2 linked regions of the Homo sapiens genome follow. The protein of the gene in region 1 purifies or fractionates together with the protein of each later gene. This does not show direct contact. Each region holds a gene or a part of one and is shown on either strand. Other genes may lie near its edges.

What was found. Proteins that work in one complex are often made in the same cells at the same time.
Region 2: the proteins of CDCP1 (region 1) and CLSTN1 purify together in Homo sapiens (affinity purification with mass spectrometry; one large-scale study listed by BioGRID and IntAct). This does not show direct contact.

The regions. Positions count from the first base shown.
Region 1 is NC_000003.12:45,136,379-45,139,878, forward strand, and holds part of CDCP1 (CUB domain-containing protein 1 isoform 1 precursor), read right to left. Parts: intron 1-3,500. UniProt on the Homo sapiens protein: May be involved in cell adhesion and cell matrix association. May play a role in the regulation of anchorage versus migration or proliferation versus differentiation via its phosphorylation.
Region 2 is NC_000001.11:9,813,966-9,817,465, forward strand, and holds part of CLSTN1 (calsyntenin-1 isoform 1 precursor), read right to left. Parts: intron 1-3,500. UniProt on the Homo sapiens protein: Postsynaptic adhesion molecule that binds to presynaptic neurexins to mediate both excitatory and inhibitory synapse formation.

The sequences.
Region 1 (3,500 bases):
TAAGGAAGAAGGAGGAGGATGGGAACAAAACTAGCTAGAAAATTTGGGGCGATGAAGCATTAATCCTCATTCCACTATATTCTGCTTTGCTCTTATAGGTGATCTCCAGTTATCCATCAAATAATAAATCAAATTTTCTAGGCCTGCTCAGTGCTAGGCCCTAAAAGTAGATAGGGAAAAAACAAAACAAAACAAATCACAGCAAGTTGCTCTTCATGAAAAGCTGCTCCAAGTCGAGAAGTCAGTTTTTTGGTCATCAACTCCTCAGTTCCTAGCAACTTAACACTTCTACTGCATCCCTTCTACACAACCACATTCTTGCAGGAAGTAACTTTAGGCTTTTTTGAAGACGGGGTCTATACTTGAGAAATTTGTTTTAATGCAACAAAAATAGTAAGGGCTATATTCATACCTGGCTTTAAATTGTTTTTATTTTTAAAATATCTTAGAGGCAAAACTACGGTGACAGAAGGCAAATCAGTGGTTGCCAGGGGCTAAGAGGTATGGATTTATTACAAAGGAATCTGGAGGAACTTCGCAGGGTGATGGAAATGTTATACCATGCATTTGACAGGACCCATTGAATTATACAATTGATACTGGTGAATTTGATGGTATGTACATTATATCTCAGTAGAGCTGAAAAATATTTTTACATTTAGATAAATAATATATGAAGCACACAATAAAGTAAAACAAAATGTAAAAAGTCGTTCTCCTACCCTTGAATCTGGTTCTGTTCCCATAGGCAACCACTATTACCAGTATTTGTGCACTATTCCAGAAGTAATCTATGAATATGCAAGTGTGTATTTATATACCATCCCTATTTCATTTTATTTTGCCAAAAGGTTGCATGCCATATGTACTGTTCTGATCCTTGTGTTTTTCTCTCCACATTCTAATGATGAGCATTTGGGTTGTTTCCAGTCTCTAGCAACTAGGGCAAGGAGGGGAAGATGCCAGTGGGACATACCTTCCCACCAGTATTCCAGGTTCCTGCCTGGAACTTGAGTTGTATTTCCCATAGAGGCAGAGGCCAGTGAGGCTAGAAGAAGTTATGTTGAGGGTTTGGCACCATTCGGGTTGTGGTGGGCTTCTGCAAGATGATCCAAGCATTGTTTACAACTTGAAAAATGTCTGCTAGGCTGGGTGCAGTGGTTCATACCTGTAATCCCAGCACTTTGGGAGGCCAAGGTGGGCAGATCACCTGAGATCAGGAGTTCAAGACCAGCCTGGCCAACATGGTGAAACCCCATCTCTATTAAAAATACAAAAAAAAAAAAAAAAAATTAGCCAGGCATGGTGGCACGTGCCTGTAATCCCAGGTACATGGGAGGCTGAGGTAGCAGAATTGCCGGAACCTGGGAGGCAGAGGCTGCAGTGAGTCGAGATCATGCCACTGCACTCCAGCCTGGGCAACAGAAAAAAAAAAAAAAAGTCTTCTATGTTCCGTGAAGATAAGGACTTAGCTCTGACAGATGTAGCCCAAGGCTGAAGTACCTGATAAGACTGTCAGAAACTTCCAAGCCAGTTCCAGAGTAATCCTCCATCTCTCAGCAGGGATTAAAGGCCAGGGCCCTGCCAGGTTTCCCTCCATGGAGATCTAGCTCTAGTTTCACAGACTGGCAAACTGCAGCCCAGTCTTGGCTAATAACACCCGGTCATGAAGATAGCTGCAATCCCCAGGAGACCACTGGGGTGTTCTCATTCCCATCTCAAATGTAACTGAGCATGACAATTAAGTTGTTATAAAACTGGTCCAGTCAGTTCCTTGGCTACCAGGAAATTCATGTGTGTGCAGGCACTTGCTCACAGAACATTTTTTAAAAACTTGTTCTAGTGTCTTTTAGAATAACTTCATACGGCTTTTCACTGAGCAGCTTCACTTCTAGGAATTTCTTCCACAGATATCCTTACACGTCCCCAAAGTCGACTGCACTGGGACAGTAACCAAAGCACAATGTGTAGGTAACAAAAGTCAAAAATAATCTTACTGTCTCCCACTAGAGACCTGGTTATACAGACTATGATAGCCTATAATTTTGGCCCAGGTTGTCTGCCTATTGAATATCTAAATGTTCTTCTTGGACCTGACTCAAATAATCAAAGTGTCTTAGTTCGTTTTGTGTTGCTATAAAGGAATACCTAAAGCTGGCTAATTGATAAAGAAAAGAGGTTTGGCTGGTTGCGGTGGCTCATTCCTTTAATCCCGGCACTTTGGGAGGCTGAGGCCGAGGCGGGTGGATCACCTGAGGTCAAGAGTTCGAGACCAGCCTGGCCGACATGGTGAAACCTCGTCTCTACTAAAAATACAAAAATTAGCCGGAGGTGGTGGCAGGCGCCTGTAATCCCAACTACTCAGGAGGCTGAGGCAAGAGAACTGCTTCCCAGGAGGTGGAGGTTGCAGTGAGCTGAGATTGTGCCATTGTACTCTAGCCTGGGCAACAGAGCGAAAACTCCATCTCAAAGAAAAAAAAGAAGAAAGAAAAGAAAAAGAAAGACCGAAAAGAAAAGAGGTTTATTTAGCTCATGATTCTGCTGGCTAAAAGGTTCAAGATTGAGCATCTGGTGAGGGCCTCAGGCTGCTTCCACTCACGGCAGAGGGCAAAGGGGATCTGGTGTGTAGAGATCACATAGCAAGAGAAGAAGCAAGGGCAGGGGGTTCTTGCTGGGCTCTTTTTAACAACCAGCTCTCTAGGGAACTAACAGAGTTAAGAACTCACTCACTCCTGAGGGATCCACCCCATGACCCAACACTTCCCATTAGGCCCCACCTCCAGCACTGGGGATCAAATTTCAACATGAGATTTGGAGGAAACAATCATCCAAACTACAGCACAAAGTCATGAAATTCTCACTAACTGAGGAATTTGTTCTAGGCCAGACTAGTGCACACATCATTTCATTCAGACCTCCAGCCAGCCTCAGGGTGCTGCTGTCCCTACAGGTTAAGCAACTTGCCCAGCTCACCTCGTTAATAAGTGGTGGAGTCAGGATTTGAACCAAGCTTTGACCAACTCCAGAGCTTGTCTGAATGAGGCTGTCTCCAAAAAGCTGGAAAGGCAACTCTGAGTCCAGTGAGGTCTTTGGCTCCAGTCCTTCCATTTCTCTGCCCTCCTCCCTCCACCAACTTCCAGCTGGGAAGCTAAGCCCTTTGGGATGTGCAGTCTGAAGACACGGGCAATGTAGCAGTGAGCAAGAACTCAGAGGCAATAGTGACCGGGAGAGCCTGGTGTTTGTATCCTTGAGGGTGGCCCAGGATGCAACTCCAGCGAGACTTGTCAGCAGGGCAGTTGATGTGAAAACAGCCCATCAACACAGGCTGAACCCTCCTGACACAGTGTCCCTGGGCAGACTCCAGCAGAGCACAGAGTTCCAGTATGAGCAGCAGTGTGTAATAACTCATCTCATTATGTTGTTTGGTTCTTGGTGTGTACCTCTCCACTGTGGCTGGTGGCCACTCTGTAGGAGTTGACTGTCTACCTGTGTCCAAGAGA
Region 2 (3,500 bases), on another chromosome or scaffold:
GTGGCAGGCACCTGTAGTTCCAGCTACTCAGGAGGCTGAGGCAGGAGAATGGCATGAACCTGGGAGAAGGAGCTTGCAGTGAGCCAAGATCACGCCATTGCACACCAGCCTGGGTGACAGAGCGAGACACTGTCTCAAAAAAAAAAAGAAAGAAAAATGTTAGGCTGAGCATGGTGGCTCATGCTTGTAATCCTAGCACTTTGGGAGGCTGAGGCAGGGAGATTGCTTGAGTCCAGGAGTTTGAGACCAATCTGGGCAATATGGTAAAACCCCATCTCTACCAAAAAAAAAAAAAAAAAAGCCAGGCATGGTGGTGTGTGTCTGTAGTTCCAGCTATTCAGGGGGCTGAAATGGGCAGATCGCTTGAACCTTGGGAGGACGGAGATTGCAGTGAGCTGAGATCGTGCCACTGCACTCCAGCTTGAATAAAAATTTCTTTGCTATACTTTAAGTATGTAAACAAAGAAGATATTCATTTTTACTGAGTTTTAAAATTCACTTTGAATCTAAAGACATATTTCTAAGCATTTTATATGTTTGAAGATTGGGTAATTGAGGAATAGTTAAATAAAATCAAAGGACTAGAAAAAATAATTTACTTTTTAACAAAGCACATTTTTAGCCAACTAGCATAACAAAAATGTAATGAATGAAGAAATGTCAGCTGGACATGGTGGCTCACGCCTATAATCGCAGCACTTTGGAGGGCCAAAAAGGGCAGAATGCTTGAGCCCAAAAGTTCGAGACCAGCCTGGGCAACATAGGAAGATCCCGTCTCTACAAAAATTTTAAAATTAGCCAGGCATGGCGGTGTGCACACCTACTCAGGAGGCTGAGGTGGAAGGATAGTTTAAGCCAAGGGAGGTTGAGGCTGCAGTGAGCTGTGATTGTGCCACTGCACTCCAGCCTGGGCAACAGAGCAAGATCCTGTCTCAAAAAAAAAAAAAGAAAAATGTCACTTTTCTAAACTAGTTGTAGTTTGAAAATTCTCGTGTTTTTTCCAGTCCCTTTCATTAAGTTAAGCCCTGCTCCTGGAACCAGGATATTGACTCTGCATGTGTCTGGGTGGCTGTCCCCCAAACACTGCATGTGTAGCCCTGTGCTAGGCTCAGATTTCCTAAGAAATCTACAGAAATCAAGGCCTAGGCCTCAGTGCTCTCAGTCTCTCTTAATGTGTGAGGTGGTAAAAACAACAGACTGTAGGCTTGGATGCCTGCAAAAATACAAAGGCGTGATAAAATTTAGTCCTCAGGAAAGCTGACCAAAGGCTCAATGTTTTTAAGAAAAGGGTTGCTCTGTGAGCTACCAAGAGCCCCACAGCAGCAGAGTTCAAACAGAGGCTGAATGATCAACACACAAGAACATATGAGGAAATGTCTGTTTTACAGGGAAGGCTATTTAAAGTATAGAGGAAAGAACTTTCAAAGTTCCTTTCAACTCAAAGTCTAAAGTCCAGAGTAGAAATTATATGAGAGACAATGGCAAAGGAAGGAATTGGTTGGATGAAATGCCGGTTTGCACCTAGACTAGGAAAAATTCAACTTAAAATTCTAACAAACTAGAAAACTGTGAAATGTGTATTTGATTCGAAAAATGCTCCTGTGAGTGACTATGGAGGTCAAGTGGATACAGGATGGTGCAGCCACTTTGTACAACCAACTGGTAGTTCCTCAAAATGTTAAAAACACAGGCCGGGCATAGTGCTCACGCCTGTAATCCCGGCACTTTGGAAGGCCAAAGCAGCTGGATCACTTGAGGTCAGGAGTTGGAGACCAGCCTGGCCAACATGGTGAAACCCCGTCTCTACTAAAAATACAAAAATCAGCCGGGCATGGTGGCAGGCACCTGTAATCCCAGCTACTCGGGAGGCTGAGGCAGGAGAATCTCTTGAACCCAGGAGGCGGAGGCTGCAGTGAGCCAAGATAACATCACTGCACTCCAGCCTGGGTGACAGAGTGAGACTCTACCTCAAAAAAAAATTTTTTTAATTTAAAAAGTTAAATCTAAGAGTTACCCTAAGACCCAACAATTCCACTTGGGTATACACCCAAGAGAAATGAAAACATATGTCCACACAAATTCCTGTACAAAAATGTTCATAGTAATATTTTCCAAAATTAGCTACAAAGTGGAAATAACCCAAATGTCCATCAGTGAATAAATGGATAAACAGAATGTGTTATATCCCTACAAGGATATATTATTTACCTATGAAAAGAAACGAAGTCCTGATACATGCTACAACATGGATGAACCTTGAAGACATCATATTAAGCAAAAGAAGCTAGTCACAAAAGGCCACGTATGATTCCATTGATGTGAAATGTCCAAAATAAGCAAATCCATAGACAGAAAATAGACTAGGGGTTGCCAAGGGAGGAGGAGAGGAGGAGGGAGATGGAGAATGATTGCTAACAGATATGGGATTTCTTTTGGGAGTGATGAAAGTGTTCTGAAATTAGATAGTGGTGATGGTTGTGCAACTTTGTAAATATACTAAAATCACTGAATTGTATGCCTTAAAAGGTTGAATTTTATGGTATGTGAACTATACCTCAATAAAGCTGCTTTAAAAAAAAAAAAAAAAAGGAGTGGATGCAGAAAAAGGTGGGTTTTTTTGTTTGTTTGTTTGAGACAAAGTCTTGCTCTGTCACCCAGGCTGGAGTGCAGTGGCATGACAAAAGTGGTCTTTTTTTTTGAGATGGAGTTTTGCTCTTGTTGCCCAGGCTGGAGTGCAATGGTGTGATCTCGACTCACTGCAACCTCCGCCCCCTGGGTTCAAGCAATTCTCCTGCCTCAGCCTCCCAAGTAGCTGGGATTACAGGCATGTGCCACCACGCCCAGCTAATTTTGTATTTTTTAGTAGAGATGGGGTTTCTCCACATTGGTCAGGCTGGTCTCTTTCTCCCAACCTCAGATGATCCGCCCACCTCGGCCTCCCGAAGTGCTAGGATTACAGACGTGAGCCACCGCACCCAGCCGGTGGTCCTCCTTTGTCCTACACAATGACTCAGAGAAAGTACAGATCAAGGTAGGCTTGAAAAGTAGCAGACTCAACAGAAGTTCTTGTCATGGGAGAATCAGACAGAACGAAACAGATGGCTGAAAGATGATTCTTCGGCCAGGTGCGGTAGCTCATACCTATAATCTCGGCTCTTTGAGAGGATGAGGTGGGAGGACTGATTGAGTCCAGGAGTTCGAGACCAGCCTGAGCAACACAGTGAGACGCCACTTCTATTAATTCTTTTTAAGATAATGATTCATGTCTGACCAAAGAAGTAAAAAAGAAAAAACATGACTCTTCTTTTGATATGCTATCACATACTTCTTATTGGGGTTCCGGAATGGGAAGGAAGCTTTCAGATTTTTTTCTTTTTTTGAGACGGAGTTTTGCTCTTGTTGCCCAGGCTGGAGTGCAATGGCACCATCTCGGCTCACCGCAACCTCCACCTCCTGGGTTCAAGCAATTCTCCTGCCTCAGCCTCCCGAGTAGCTGGGAT